Regions from separate parts of the Homo sapiens genome. Here region 2 is linked to region 1. The links come from fine-mapping of genetic effects on gene expression. Tissue or cell type: whole blood. Region 1 holds a variant in brackets; the other region holds the start of a gene. All regions are shown on one strand. Distances are between the middles of the regions.

What was found. PIP is the estimated chance that this variant, and not a neighbour inherited with it, causes the effect.
Region 2: it holds the start of ZNF337, and the variant in region 1 is fine-mapped to the expression of ZNF337 in whole blood (TOPMed, PIP above 0.99).

The regions. Positions count from the first base shown.
Region 1 is chr20:25,290,268-25,298,371 of GRCh38, reverse strand. It overlaps PYGB (glycogen phosphorylase B), which reads right to left. Exons shown (of 20, transcript NM_002862.4): 16 at 7,750-7,891; 17 at 5,759-5,966; 18 at 4,080-4,214; 19 at 2,702-2,768; 20 at 360-2,002. The coding sequence ends at 1,850. It also overlaps a transcript of ABHD12 not described here. Among named protein-coding and RNA genes, the nearest start is that of PYGB, 46 kb to the right of the region's middle. RefSeq lists enhancers at 2,203-2,724, 3,770-4,292. The variant C/G (reference allele first, on the strand shown) is at 3,952.
Region 2 is chr20:25,692,897-25,701,000 of GRCh38, reverse strand. ZNF337 (zinc finger protein 337) reads left to right here and starts at 4,148. Exons shown (of 5, transcript NM_015655.4): 1 at 4,148-4,242. It overlaps LOC107985400 (a long non-coding RNA gene), which reads right to left and starts at 3,960. Exons shown (of 2, transcript XR_007067557.1): 1 at 3,838-3,960. RefSeq lists an enhancer at 4,635-4,744.

The DNA of each region.
Region 1 (8,104 bases):
ATTGCTTGAACCCAGGAGGCGGAGGTTGCAGCGAGCCAAGACCGTGCCACTGCACTCCAGCCTGGGCAACAAAAGCAAAACTCCATCTCAAAAACAAAAAAACAAAACTAGCCGTTCAGGCACACATGACCCCGGGTTCCACACCTAGTGGAGATGCAAACTTTTCTGCCCTCAATCCCAGAATGATGGGGTGTAATTCAGCCCCGGCTCTAGTTTCAGACGGGGGACCTGTGGCCCACTTGCAGGTCTCATCCCTGCACTGGCACCACCCTGGGCCTCAGGCCTGTGTTCTCTGCTTCCCACAGTCTCATACCACCACCTGCAGTTAGTTAGTTAGTTAGTGAAACACAGACCCCATGTCAGCCAACCACAGCCACAAAGGTTTAATCAGTTTTTATCTCACAAGGCAGTAACAATGAGGGGCACAGTGGTGGTCAGGGTGGTGGCCCCAGTGGCCAACTAGGGGAGTATGGCCTCCTCCACAGAGCCGCTGCCTGGGGAAGATGCTGTCAGGGCACGACCACAGCCCAGCACTTGCCCCACTCAATAAAAGGCTGTAGTGCTCTGGTGGGCTGTGCACCGTGCGCAGATCCTCCTGGTGGGCACTGGAGGCCAGGGAGAAAAAGAGCCTCCCCGCAGCCCAGATCCAGCATGCAAGGTGCTAGATTTCTCGGCAATTCCACAGGGAAGGACAGTAGCCTGTTCCCTGCCCTCTCTCTTGGGCAATGGGAGGCAGGTTGCCAGCCTTGGGGAGGGGCAAGGCTGTGAGGGGCTCACCCCCACCTCCCAGTGCCAGGCCTGCTGTCCAAGCAGAGCACAAATGGGTTCCTCCGGGACCCCTGGTCCTTTTTCCAGACGAGGCTGTGGCACTGGTGGAAAGGGAGGGAGAATGGAGCCTGGCCCTTGTGTGTACAACAGGAAATGCACCTCAGGACACAGCAGGAGTCAGCGGGAGGGCACAGACCTGCCCCCTGCCAGGCAGAAAATGGGCCTCCTCAAGCACAAAAGTGACCAAGTACAATTTTCAGTTGCTAAAACAAGAAAAGGCTTCAGCTAGTTTCATTTCCATGTGTAGTTATTTTCTCTTTTGAATAAGCAAAACCAAGCTAAGCTGTGTCAGCCAACTTCATCCTGACCAAGGCCTCTGAGACAGCAGACACAAGCACCCACTCCAGTGTCCCCCTCAGTCATCCCGGGTTCCAAGCACCCACACAATGCCCATTGGATGGCTACAAAGGGAAAGCCCCATCTGGGTCCATGACCCATATACCAGGTGCAGAGCCAGGACAGAGGGCAGGGGGCAGGGGGCTGTGAAGGCGATGCCTAGAGGATCCGACCCCTCCCGGCATGGCCAGGAGGCAGGGCTGGGCAGGATGACTGGGGCTACATGGGGCTTGGCCCTTCCCTGTGGCTGGCAGCCCAGATGCTGCAGTAACACTCATTCCCAGGCTTCACTATGGCCACTGGCCCAGACCCCAGAATCCAGAGGCTCAACACTAAAGACATCGGCTAATACATAGCAAGATGTGTGCAAAGTTCTGGGGGAGCCCAGCAGGTGGCTCCACCTGACTCCCACTCTGGGTGGGGCAGGTGCTGAAGCTGCAGGGCTGGCCACGACCCTTTGTACTGTCAACTCTGGCTTCCTTTACAAGAAACTAGGAGCACTTCTAGCACATTCCTTCCTTACCCTGCTCTCTCAAAACCACCCTGACCCCCATGGCCCCTCCTGGAAACATGGTACTCAGAAAAGCAGGGACCACCAGTGGCTGGCAAAGTGTTTGGGGAAAAAAGGAGGTGCAAAGTCAGCAAGAAAACAAATGCCCGCTGGTCCCGCCAAGGCAGGGTGTGCCTAGTCCCGGGGGATGTTGGGGGGCGGGATCTGCAGGTCGGAGGGCTCCACACCCCAGATCTCCCGTGCATACTCCGTGATGGTCCGGTCACTGGAGAACTTGCCCGAGCAGGCGATGTTCCTGATGACCTTCTTGGTCCACTCCTTGGGGTTCTGCAGGGAAGGAGATGAAATTAGTCTCTGGCGTCACAGGGCTTGGGGCTGCTAAAAACATGGGATTCCAGAACTTTAGGACTGTTTCCAAATGAGCTCCGAGCCTTGGGGCCATCCGCTGGAAGAGGAGGACATTACAATCACTTGTTCGTTGAAAAGGGGACCCCACGGACCAGGAAAGCTACCGCATTCTAGATCTAGGGAGCAAGGAGCTGGAGAGAAGGTCCCAGCCTCGAAAATTCCTGCTAGGGCATGGCCCCCAGGACGACGATAGGGATAGCACCAGGTAAGAACTGCCCAGGCAGATCCAGTGCCAGGGGACATGCCCAGGCAGTCTCCTTCCACCAGGGAGCCTCACAGCTGCCACAAGCTGCAGGTCACACCAGGCCAGCCTTTCCTCGAGGCCAGCCCTGACTGAGGGAAGAGAAGGTCCCTCCCAGGGCCCTGCCCGTCACTCAGTTTCCAGGCCGCACATTCCTTTCTTGGCCATTAGGAGCTGTTTTTTTCAACGGAGGGAGTGACATTGACAGTGACAGCTTCCCTAAAGGCAGGCACAGCCGACTGATGACAGATCAGAATCACAAACCCCTCTGGCCCAGGCCAAGAATCTACTCAGCTTGGGAAATAAACAATCTGACCCAACACGTCTACATGGACCCACCCAGCTGCTCCCCTAGCCTCTGGACCCAGGAGCCTCACCCGGTACAGCTGGTCCACCTGTGCCTGGCACTGCATGTAGGCTTCATAGTCTGCAAACACCTTGAACCTGGAATGGGAGAAAGGAGGCTGGGCCAGGGCAGCAGGGAGCCCTGCCCACACTGTCCCGAGGGGAGAGTCCCAGGGCAGGAGGCCAGGCACCATCCACCTGGTCCTGTCTGGAGCGAAGGGGCCCACCCACGCAGCTGGTCAGAGCCAGGCTGCACCAGGCCCATTTGGCCACAGGGCTTCTCTGTGAGCAACACTTATGTCCTGGGACAATATTTTAGAAAAACCTTATTTCAACCCAACACTCCTTTAAATAAACTGGCATTTAAAACGTGTCTTCCACACGCAGGGCAGTTAGAGCTGCACATGGGAGAGGCCTCCTGGGCAGACAGTGGAGAGCCCATGGCGCCGCCTCAGGGCAGGGGGCACTTGCTGGGGAACGGCATCTCCATTTGCCGTCTTAAGTCTAACTGGGATTTGCCTACACAGGAAATACTGACTTGCAGTTCCTGATGTGCTGAACAAAAATGCCAGATTTATGAATCTACAAATGCATTTCTGTTCACTATCGAGTCAGAAGCACACTTCACGAAATGCAGAGTTCACAATTTTAAAAGCACTTCCTTTATCACAGACCTCAGCAGGGCCCAGGTTCCAGCCCAGATCCCAGCATGTGGTCAGAGCTGGTGTGACTGAAGCCAACAGGTGACACGGTCATCGAAGAGCAGCAGACAAAACTAAAACTAACCCAAAGGCAGCTGAAAGTGGAGGGCAGGTGAATTCCCAGCCCTCGCCGGATTCAACTTTTGCCAACGGTGAAGAACTGCCCTGAGCTGCAAACCTTACAAAGTCTGTAACTCTAGATAAACCATACCATGTGCTAACTGCACTGAAATAAAACACTAACTACATTATAATGTCACATCGTTGCAAGTGAAATCCATTTTCACCACTGCCTGTCACTGGCACTGACGCCTGCCGCGGTTCCGCAGCCCTTGTGCGCCCCCTACCCCACCCCAGGGAGTTTTGGGCCCATGCTCCCTCTACTGGCCTGCTGGGACACGGCTGCCCCTGGGACCTCCAACCAGCAGAGGACACCCCCTCCTGCTCAGCACATTGGTCCACAAGGCCTGGGGGCTGGACTGTGCTGCTGTGTCTCGCTGCCCAGGGCCCCCTGGCATTGCCAGAGGCCATCGCAAACTCCCAGCTGGGGTCTAAGGCTCTGCCCAGTAAGGTCTCATGGG[C/G]ACAGTGGAGAAGACGTCCTGAAAGCACGGGTTTTGCTCTCCAAACAAGGTGGAATATCCAACCCACGAAGAGGACCCCTCCCTCCCTCCCTCCCTCCCAGCCACCCAACCAGGGAAGTCGGTCCCACCTGTCATGGTGCATCAGCATGTTCACGATGTCCTTGAAGCAGTCTGGCTCCTTGGGAGAAAAAAAGCCACTGCTGATCTGGTCCACGGCCTGCTTCAGCTCGGGCAGGTGGTCGTAGTACTCCCTGGCATTGTACCTGTGAGGCGATGGGCCAGGAGTCAGCAGCCAGCGCCCCAGGTGGGCCACCTTGGAGAACAAGCCATGTTGGTGCCTGGCACAGCCCCTGCCCCAGGATGGCCCTGGGAGCTCAAGGCCTGCACGGTCCAGGGCAGCAGCCAGTGGCCATGGGTGGTTACGAGGCCCTTGAGCAGGGACCTGCTCGAGCAGAGATGTGAAGTCAGTCTAAAGCCAATCCCACCTGCTCCTTTGACTGTTAAAGAAATGTCATCACTAGCAGATCTGCTAGGACATAGTGGCTGATGCCACATTCCTAGTGGAGAGGGCCACTCAGAACTTGGCTCACTGTGAAATCCTGGGCAGAGCTTTTGAAAAACAGACGGCCGGAGGGGCAGGAAGTGAAATGGAGCACCTTGGCTGGGACCTCGAAGATGGAAAAGGAAAAACGCAAGCAAGACCAGACAGGACAAGGCAGAGCTAAGTGGGAGAGGGACGGACGGGCAGACATGGGCATCCCAGGACGGGGCCCGGGCAGAAGAAGCTGTGTGAGGGCGCAGAAAGGGAGCACAGGCCTCTGTGCTCGGGCCAGCAAGGCACAGCTCTGACTTCAGATGGCATGTGTGGTTTCACCTGACCCTACTTAAGGCCTCACAGGCTCCCCAGTGCTTCAAGGCAATCAGGCAACACTGCCTTTTCTTTGTAATTATCGCTTGGAATCAGGCCCGTGCTGGATTCCTCATGACGTCCAGATCATGAAGAACAAGGAAAAACTGAGAAGCTGTCACAGACCAAATGACACTGGGGAGACCTGACGGCCACACACAGTGGAGTGCCCTGATGGGATCCTGGGATGGGAAAGACAGTAACAGAACCCCGGTGGAGTTGGAATGGAGTGTGGGCTGCAGGAGGGCCAGTGCTCTGAGCTCAGTGCAGCCAACGGAGGGGCGCGGGGATAAGGTGGATGAAGCTCTGGGTGCTGTCTTCAGGATTCCCTCCTCCCCTCTGCCACCCCCCAACCCCCCCATCCCCCCCACTCCCCCACCCCCCCCGACCCTGGCCTACACATTTAAAATGTTTCCAAAATACTATTTTTAAACAATTTTAACAGTTACAACTTAGACCAGGGAACCTCAACAGCAGGCAAGCCCCAAATCAGCAGAGTGCTCCCGGCAGAGCGCCCCTGGCAGTGGGGTCCTGCCCAGCCCCAGCCCATTTCTGTGGGGCTGCCTGTGCCCAGGGGGTGTCCCTCTAGGAGACCCTCCCCAGGGGAAAAGGCCTTTCCTGGAGGAGGAGCCCCTGGTCTGGACTCCGCAGATTCAGCCTCAGAGCCGAGACAGGAGCAGCCCAGCACCCCCACGTGGGCCTCGCCCGCAGCCCGGACCCCGTCCATTCCATGCACCTGGAAATGGTCACCCCTGCAGGCAGGCACACAGCCCTGGGTGGGCACTGACCCTAGCACACAGTGGCCTGGCCCCAAGAGCCCAGTCCAGCCAATGCCCCCAGCCCAACACCCTTCATTCTCCATCCTCACGGTGCCAGGTGCCCAGGGGCACAGGCTCGCACCCTTTCCGGTCCAAGGCCTCGACATCCTCCACCCGCAGGCCGAAGATGAAGAGGTTCTCGGCCCCGGCCTCCTCGGCCATCTCCACGTTGGCGCCGTCCATGGTGCCGATGGTGAGGGCCCCGTTGAGCATGAACTTCATGTTGCCTGTGCCTGAGGCCTCGGTGCCTGCAGTGGAGATCTGCTGCGACAGATCAGCGGCCGGGATCACTGTGGAGGGGAGCCCGTGGAGGGGATCACTGTGAGGACCCCAATGTCCTCAGCCGCAAGGCTCACTGCAGGACAAGCCGGCCCATCCACCCGGGGCTGGGTCGTGGAGGGACCAATGCTGTGGCCCCGCTCCAGCCCCCACTCCCGCTCCCACAGGGGCCCAGGCTGGACACGGCCACCCGCCTCTGCAGGGCTCCCCTTCGTGACTGGGGCATCCTTGAGGCAGAAGGTCCAAGATGGGGGCTCCTCAGGAGCCAGGTGGCATAGGATCTGTGCACCAAAACCTTCCCCAAAACCAGGCCTAGCCAAGGAGCCAGTCCTGGCTCGCTGACAATGTCGTTCCCTGGATCACCGCGACCTTGATCAGCCCCAGCGGCTCCCTGGATCCTTTCAGGAGGAATGTAGACCAGAATAGAGCCAGAAGGCTGGAGCGGCTGAGGGGTGGCGACCTCCTGGGCGCCAGCAGCTGCCAGATGCCACGGCCCTGCGCTTTCTCTGTGCCTGTCCCTCAGGACTGGTCACCGCTCCCAGACACGCTGTGAGTGCACACACTGACTATACAACCTGCTCTCCACCCTCACCTCAGGCTGCAGCCCAGTCAGCCACAGCAACACTGCCGGGGAGAACGGGGCCCTGACGCCAGCACCGAGACTCCAGACCAGGTGCCTGAAGGCCTGCTCTAAAGATGAGCAGGAGTCAGCTGGCCCCAAAACACATAGGAGGAGGGGAGCCTCAGGCAGCACGGGGGAGAGGAGATGCTTCGGTCAGAGGAGCAGGGAAGGACGAGCCACAGTTCCTGGCCAAGCCGGAGGCAAGCCGGCCCGTGAGTGCCTCAAGGGACCTCGCCTGCCAGGCACCACTAAAGAGGGGGAGCGACATGGACACCAAGGCAGCAGCCAGGCCACAGGGACGGTGCCCAGGGATCCCCCCCTGCACCACGGAGCTTGCAGAACAACAGCAGATCAGCCCTCTCACCTGCGGCAGCCTGGGAAGCCCAGGCGGCCTGAACTAGGGGGGGCCCTTGGCCCTCGGCGGCAGGAGGGGAGCACGAGAAGGCCAGGCTCAGATCTCCCACCATCTGGTGGGCAAATCACTTTCCTGCCCAGTAGAGCCCACAGGGGTGGGAACTGATGGGCTCCAGGGCACATGGCAGCACATCCCAGGGTCTCCCCAGGACTGGCCCAGGCTGCCCTCAGGAAGCACAGATGAGGCAGGTGCTGCCACCTGAGATCACTGGTGGGCCCAAGAGCAGGCAGGCAGTGAGGAGCAAGGATGTGGGCGGAGGAGGGGCAGTGGAGTTGGGGGAAGCTGGGGGCCCACAACCCCACTGGCCTGGTGCATGTCCTGCCAGCAGAGGGGCCCAGGGCAGAAGACACGGCTGAGGGGCAGGAGGAGAGGGCAGGGGAGGGAGGGTACAGAGGGCAGGCCAGGCAGGTCCTGCCAGCAGAGGGGCCCAGGGCAGAAGGCACGGCTGAGGGGCAGGAGGAGAGGGCAGGGGAGGGAGGATACAGAGGGCAGGCCAGGCAGGCGCGGCAGTAAGGGTGCCCTGTTGGGGGATGACACTGCCTGTGACATGCAAGGCGCCCCGGGACGCACTGTGAGTCCTCCGCACTGCACGGGGAGCACTCCCTAAAGCCGTTCCCTGCTCGCCTGCAGCCCGGCTGGCTAGGTCTGGGTGTCCAGGCAGAGCTGAACTGGCTGAGGATGAAAGGCCCGGGGCCAGTACAACGCCCGTTCCCCGGCAGGAGTGAGTTTTCTGTCCAACACAGGCTTCCAGGGTTACCTTTCTCAGCCAAGGACACACGGTAGTTCTCCAGGAAGATCACTTTCAACCTGTCACCCACAACTGGGTCATGATTGACGACGTCGCCGATGGAGGTGACCAACTTGATGATCAGCTTGGCCATGTGGTAACCGGGCGCTGCCTGGAAGGAGAGGGTGAAGGTTTTTAGCACAAAAATGCCTTGTTCAGGCCCTTGGAGGCGCTCCTGGTTCCTGGGGTCTGTAGGGGGGTGAGGCTAGAGCCACAGGAACCTGCCGTCGGGACGGTCAGTAGAGGAGCTAGGGAGGCTCCCCGGCCCCAAGGCCCCAGCTCTGCTGCGCACTCACGATGGTGGCCACCTCGCCACATCCAGAAA
Region 2 (8,104 bases), 400 kb before region 1:
ATCATTCTCAGCAAACTAACACAAGGACAGAAAACCAAACACCACATGTTCTCACTCATAAGTGGGAGTTGAGCAATGAGAACACATGGACACAGGGAGAGGAACATCACACACTGGGGCCTGTCGGACCGTGGGGGTCTGGGGGAGAGATAGCATTAGGAGAAATACCTAATGTAGATGCTGGGTTTATGGCTGCAGCAAACCAGCATGGCATGTGTATACTTATGTAACAAACCTGAACGTTCTGCACATGTACCCCAGAACTTAAAGTATAATTTTAAAAAAGGTAAAATTCACAAACCTTTAGCCAGACTAAGAAAAAACAGAAGACCAAAACAAATAAAATCAGAAATGAAAAAGGAGACATTACAATTGATACCATAGAAATTTAAAGGATCATTAGAAATGATTATGAGCTACTATATGCTATTAATTTGGAAAATCTAGGAGAAACTGATACATTCCTAGATACATAAAACCTAAGATTGAACCATGAAAATATCCAAAACATGAGTAGACTAATAACAAATGAGATAGAAGCAGTATTAAAAAGTATCCCATCAAAGAAAAGCCCAGGACCTGACGGTTTCATTGCTGAATTCTACCAAACATTTTATAAAGAACTAGTATCAATCTATGCAAACTATTTAAAAAAAAGAAAGAAAGAAGGATCACTTCCAAACTCATCCTATAAGGTCAGTATTATCCTAACACCAAAACCATACAAAGATGTACAAAAAAAGAAAACTATAAGGCAATATCTCCAATAAACAGAGACACAAAAATCCTTAACAAAATGCTTGCAAACCAAATTCAACAACACATTAAAGTGATTACTCATCATGACCAAGTGGAATTCATCCCAGGAATGCAAGGATGGCTCAATATATGTAATTCAATAAATGTGATATATCATATCAAAAAAACAAAAGACAAAAACCATATGATCATCTCAATGGATACCAAAAAAGCATTTGTAAAATTCAACATCCCTTCATAATAAACACTCAAAAAAAAAAAAAACTCGGTGTAAAAGGAATATACCTCAATATTATAAAAACCATATGTGACAAACCCACAGCTAGTATCATACTGAAAAATTGAAAGCCTTTCCTGTAAGATCTGGAAGAAGACAAAGATTCCCACATTCCACACTTTTATTCAACGTAGTACTAGGAAATCTTAGCTAGAGCAATTACTGAAGACAAAGAAATAAAAGGTATTCAAATTAGAAAGGAAGAAGTGAAGTTATCCTTGTTTGCAGATGATATGATCCTATATTTAGTTAAACCTAAAGACTTCAGCCAAAAAACATTAGAATTGATTAAGAAATTCAGTAAAGTTTCAGGATACAAAATCAACATACAAAAATGGGTGGCATTTCTATATGCCAACAACAAACAATCTGAAAAAGAAATCAAGAAAGTAACCTGTTTATAAAAGTTACAAATAAAATAAAATAGCTAGGAATAAAATCAACCAAAGATGTGAACGATCTCTACAACAAAAACTATAAAACATTGATGAGAGAAATTGAAAAGGATACAAAAAATGGAAAGATAGTCCGTGTTTTTGGACTAGAAGAATTAATCTTATTAAAATGTCCATTCCACCTTGTCTACAGATTCAATGCAATCCCAATCAAAATATCAATGACATTCTTCACAGAAATAGATAAATTAATCCTAAAATTTATATGGGACCATGAAAGATCCAAAATAGCCAAAGCCATCCTGAACAAAAGTAATAAAGCTGGAGGAATCACATTACCTGACTTCAAATTATGCAAACTATAGTAATCCACACAGCAAAATGCTGGCATAAAAACAGGCACACAGACCAATGGAACAGAGTGGAGAGCCCAGAAATAAATCCACACATTTATAGTTCAACTTATATCCCACAAAGGTGCAAAGAACTTACATTGGGGAAAGACAGTCATTTCAATAAATGGCACTGCAAAAACTGGATATCCATTTGCAGAAGAATGAAATCTAAAGCAATCCCCTCACCACATATAAAAATCAAATCAAAATGGATTAAAGGTAAATCTAAGACCTGAAACTATAAAACTACTAGAAAAAAACATTGGGGAAACACTCCAGGACATTGGTGTGGACAAAGATTTCTTGAGTAAGACTGCAAAAGCACAAGCACCTAAAGCAAAAGTGGACAAATGAGACCACATCACATAAAAATCTTCTGCAAGCAAAGGAAACAATCAACAAAGTGAAGTGACAATCCACAGAATGGGAGAAAAAATTTGCAAACTATCCATCTGAAAAGAAAGTAATTGCCAGAATATATATAAGGAGCTAAAACAACTCAATAGGAAAAAGACAATCTGATATTTTAAATGGAGAAAAGATCTGAATAGGCATCTCTCAAAATAAGATATATGAACGGCCAACAAGTGTATGAAAAAAAATGCTCAATGCCACTAATCATCAGAGAAATGTAAATCAAAACCGCAATGAGATATAATGTCACCCCAGTCAAGATAGCTTTTATTCAAGAGACAGGCAATAGTGAATACTGGTGAGGGTGTGGATACACCCTCATACACTGTTGTTAGGAATGTAAATTAGTACAACCACTATGGAGAGCAGTATGGAGGTTCCTCAAAAGAATTAATAAATATATACATGATCCCGCAATCCCACTGCTGAGTATATATCCAAAAGAAAGGAAATCAGTATTTCAAGGATATATCTGCACTCTCATGTTTACTACAGCACTATCCAAAATAGTAAAGATATAGAATCAAAGTGTCTATCAACAGATGAATGGATAAGGAAAGTGTGGTACATTAACACAATGGGATATTAGCCAGTCATTAAAAGAATGAAATTCTGTCATTTTCAATAGCATGTATGAAAATGGAGGACATTATGTTAAGCGAAATGAGGCACAGCATGACAAATATCACATGTGCTCACTCATTTGTGGGGCTAAAAACGTGAACTCATGGAGATGGAGAGTAGAATGAGATAGTTAACAGAGGCTGGGAAGGATGGTGGGTAGAGGAGATAAAGAGGGACTTGTTAATCGATACAAAAATACAGTTAGAATGAATAAGATCTAGTAGTTGGTAGCACTATACAGTGACTATAGTTAAGAACAATTTTACTATATATTTAAAAATAAGAGAGAATTGGAAACTTCCTAAAACAAAGAAATGCTAAATGCTTGAGGGGATGGATACCCCAATCACCCTCATTTGACCATTAAACACTGTATGCCTGTATCAAAACATAACATGTACCCTATAAATATGTACAACTAATATTTATCCAGAATAATTAAAAATTTAAAAACCAAAAGAGAAAAAGCAAACAGCAAGTATACCTAGTAAAGGCCTGAAATATAAAGTCTACGTGGTTTGGCAAGCCACAAAAGATATCAGCATATTATACACCCTACATAATGAAAGAATTCTGGCATTGATGCATAATTAGATAAATGGGGGAACAATTAGAAATTGAAATGCAAATGTAAATTGAGTATACTGAATTATGTAGCTGAAACCTTAAATTATTTGGTAAAAGACTATATTTTTAATAAATTTAATGGGAAATTAATAAAATATTAGAAAATTTTAAAAATAATTGTATATTTACAGTGTGTACCTGGAGAAAAATTAAACCATTGAGAGATCTAAATGTGAATGATAAAACCACAAAATCCGTAGGAAAATCAGAGATCAAAAGTACTACATAGCAAAAAAAAGAAACAAAAGAAAAAAAAAAGACATACCCATAATCAAAAGACAGTGGGAAAATTATTTACCTATATCATAGAAATGGGAAAATATGCTTAATGTATGTATAGGGCTACCTAAATAAAAGAAATCGCCGGTTCTGAAAGGATCCCTCCACGTCCAAACGACCATAGGCTCGCCCCACCTGTCAGAGAGGAGTCCTTCCGAGAAGTCCTTCCAAGGATTCCGGGTCGCGCAGTCCCGGGTGGACCGCTATGACCAATATTCTGGGGCGTGTACCTGGACGACTCCCGAGGACTCTGGGGAGTGTAGTCCACCGAGGGGATGCGACGCGCAGGGTCGCATAGCCTCCGGGCCGCGCCGAGGATGCTGGGTAGCGTAGTCCCGGCCGCGCTGAGGATTCTGGGTAGTGTAGTCCCGGGCGGCGCAGAGCGTTCCAGATCCCTGGGCGTCAGCGAGCCGTGAGATGCGTGGTCCACCATCGGTGACCTCACCGCCTCGGTTCGCCCTCAGCCGCCCCGGTGAGCTGCGCTCCTGCGGGTCCCTCTCTGCAGCGCGCCCTTCCGGCGCAGGAAGAAGGGCCGGGAAGGCCTGGGACGTGAGGGCGCTGCTGGGGCCGTAGCGCGCGCTCCTCCAGGCCCGGCGTCTCCGCGTTCTGGGGAGGGGCGGAGACCCAGGCCGCGCCTTGAAGTGGGCGGTGGGGCTGCGGCTTGCCGAGCGCCCCGGGTCTGGGCCGCCACTCAGTCTCCGTTCCCGGTTGCGTGTAGTGGCGGCTCGGGCGGTGAACAGCCCGGATTTCACAGGGGCGCCGAGCAACCCAGGTCCTCTTGTGCCAGGGTCGCCGCTCCTCGGGTGGGGACGGGCCAGCGGCCTAGCGAGCTGCCACGGGGGTCTTTTGGCCGGAGGTGGAGGGGGACTCGGCCACAGCCAGGGTCCACTGGTGGGGTGGGGGTTACAGCCATGAGACGGATGGGCTAGGTCCGACTCGGGTTCCCTCCGACTCTGATGCTCCAGACTTTATTGTGGGAGGCGGGACAGGGGAGGACTTCGCCCGCGTGTTTTGGGGAAGGGCCGCTGCTTTGGGTTGGGAGCACCCCGCCTTGGGACGATCTTCCGCGGATAGGAGTGTAGGCCGGGACCAAATGTCCTCGCACGGGCACGTCTAGACGTGTTTTGGTGGGGGGGGGGGGGGATCTGCGTGGGGCAGCGTCCGCGGGAGGTGAGGTGGCTGTGGGGACCCAGGTGGCCTCTTCCCTGGGGCCTTGCTAATGACGGCAAAATCCGGGTTCTGCCAAAATATATTTAAAAAGGTTTATTCCTAGTCAGTATGAGTGACTGTGGCCCAGGTTATTCAGCCTCAAGAGGTCCTGTGAAAGTGCCCGAGATGGTCAGGCTTGCAGGTTAATTTTATACAATTCAGGGAGACAGGAATTTCAGGTAAAGTCATAAATCAGGCTGAGCAGTGTGGCTCATGCCTGTAGTCCCAGCACTTTGGGAGGCCAGGAGTTCCAGAGCAGCCTGGGCAGCACAGCAAGACCCTGTCTCTACATGAAATTAGAAAAATAAAAAAATTAGCGGGGCGTGGTGTCCCATGCCTGTGGCCTCAGCTACTTGGGAGGCCCAGTCAGTTGAGTCCAGGAGGTGGAGGCTGTAACCAGCTATGTTGGCTGCACTGCACGCTAGCCTGGGTAACACAGCGAGATCCTGCCTCCAAAAAGAAAATCATAAATCAATAAGAGAAAGATATACACGGGTTCCTCCCAAAAAGCTGGTATATCTCCAAAGGGTTTACACCTCATGGGGGCACTTAGGGATTCTTTAGTGGACAGTTGGTTGAGAGACTTAAGCTACTGCCTGAAGACTGGAATCAGAAGCATGCCAGAGTTAAGGGGATTGCGTAGATCAAAGTTCTTATTATGTAGATGAAGCCTCTTAGTTGGCAACTCTCAGAATAGATGGTAAATGTCTGTTTTCAGTTTTTTGGGTTTTTGTGTTTTTGTTTTTGTTTTTAGAGAGAGTCTTGCTCTGTCGCCCAGGCTAGAGTGCAGTGGCGTGATCTCAGCTCACTGCAACCTCCACCTCCCAGGTTTGAGCAGTTCTCCTGCCTCAGCCTCCTGAGTAGCTGGGACTACAGGCGCCCGCCACCACGCCTGGCTAATTTTTGTATTTTTAGTAGAGATGGGGTTTCACCATGTTGCTGAGGCTGGTCTTGACTTCCTGACCTCAGGTGATCCACCCACCTCTACCTCCCAAAGTGCTGGGATTACAGGCGTGAGCCACCGCGCGTCAGGCTGGCTGTCTCTTCCAGACCTAAGAAAGGCTTAGAACAAAGGAGGTCTGGCTACATTAATGGAGATTCGCTGCAGATGCAAATTTTCCCACTAAAGATAGCTTTGCGGGGCTATCCATTTCAATCTGTTGCCCCTGTGGCAGCCACTTCAAAACATGTCAAAGAAGTATATTTTGGGGTAAAATAATTTCCTTCAGCATCTGCTGTCATGTGATGCTGTACCAGAGTCAGGTTGGAAAGTGAGCCTCATTATATAAGAGTAATAAAACTCATCTGATGAGATTTTATGGTTTCTCGGGCAGGATTCCCCAAGCCTCATACATAGGCATTTGGGCAAGGGAAAAAAGGTGAATTTAGTCCTCACCAGGTTGGTAGGGCTTCCTCGGTTATTGGAGTGGGAGTAACAGCAACCATTGGGCCCAGCAGTTTTTTTAAATGTCTCTGGGGCTGTGGACTGACCATCCAAATAACTGATTTTAATCATTTCATTATGGAAAAATTGTCAGCAGAACCCCCAAGTAGAGAGACCCATCAGTCAAGATATACCTCATGACCTTGCAAGCTAATCTAGCTTGACCCAGATCCCCTCCTAATCTGTGCAGATTCATTGAGGAATGTCATAGCCATGCCTACTGGTTAAGACATAGTCCTTTACAGTGAGAGTTGAAACCCAAGCTCTATCACTTTCTTGGCTGTGTTGCTTTGAGAAAGGCATTTAAATGTTTTGTGCCTGTTTCCTCATCTGAAATTGGTGGGTAATAGTCACTTCATAGGACAGTTGTGAAGATTGAATGCAGAAAAATTTGTGCCACGCCTGGAACCGTCCCTGGCATATATTAAATTCTAAAAAAGTGTTAAATATTATAATGAATATCAACACTTCCTTATTCTGGAAGCACCGACAGGATATGCTGTGTTTAGTGTTAGCATCATGTCAGGACAGGGTCTGTTGCGATGCCCACACTCAGGATCTGTTCCCAGGAACCTGCGTAAAGTTTTCTTCTCTGGAAGACTTTGGGTCCTTTTTTTTTAACAAGAAGAGGCTCTACCCTGGGACTGGGAATTTCCAAGGCCACCTTTGAGGATCGCAGAGCTCATTTTAGAGCCATTTTAGTCCCCAGCTCCTCTTCCTCCACTCCCACGTTACCCGTGAGAGGACTGTCTGCAGGGTAAGGGAGGACAGCCCAACCCCAGGTGGGGACTTCTTATGTATTGCCTTCCTGCAGTGCCTTCTCTGCCCTAAACCATGGTGGGTTTCCTTTGCTAATGTCTGACATCTTGTGCCCTACACTGTCCCATCTGAGGCTCAGAACCTCTCAGCCGGTTCTCATGGGGAACGTTCCCCAGATCTGATGCCCTCATTCAGGACACTTCCATCATTGTCCCTACATTTCTTCTCTCAGTGCTTTATTCAGGCTGCTGCATTCGTGGTGCAGACCAGGTCTTGTAAAAAATTATTCAGTCAGCATGTGCTGAGCCATTGTCCTGTCCCAGGGACAGGGCTTTATAGTCATTGCCCTATTCATCTCTTCAACCAATGTGGAAGTTAGGAATTGGAATCCCCATTTCACAGACTAAGAAGTGGCGTGTTAATCAGTTGAAATAATTTTTACGGCTTGGCGTGGTGGCCCATACCTGTAATCCCAGCACTTTGGGAGGCCAAGGCGGGCAGATTACCTGAGGCCAGGAGTTCGAGACCAGCCTGGCCAACATGGTGAAACCTCATCTCTACTAAAAATACAGAAATTAGCCAGGCATGGTGGCTCACGCCTGTAATCCCAACTACTCTGGAGCCTGAAGCAAGATAATCGCTTGAATCCAGGAGATGGAGGTTGCAGTGAGCAGAGAACATGCCACTGCACTACAGCCTGGGGGACAGTGAGACTCTGTCTCAAAAAATAATAATTTTTACTTTATGTAACATATCTGGGATCAAGTGGACTGGGTTGTGGAGCAAGCTGGGATTTTGGGGGTTTCTGTTAAGAATTAGCTTCATTGAGGTATAATTGAGACAATAAAATTATCTCCCATTTTAAGTTCTAGTTGATGAGTTTTGAGAAATGTATATAGTGAAGTCTTGATCATCAAATCAA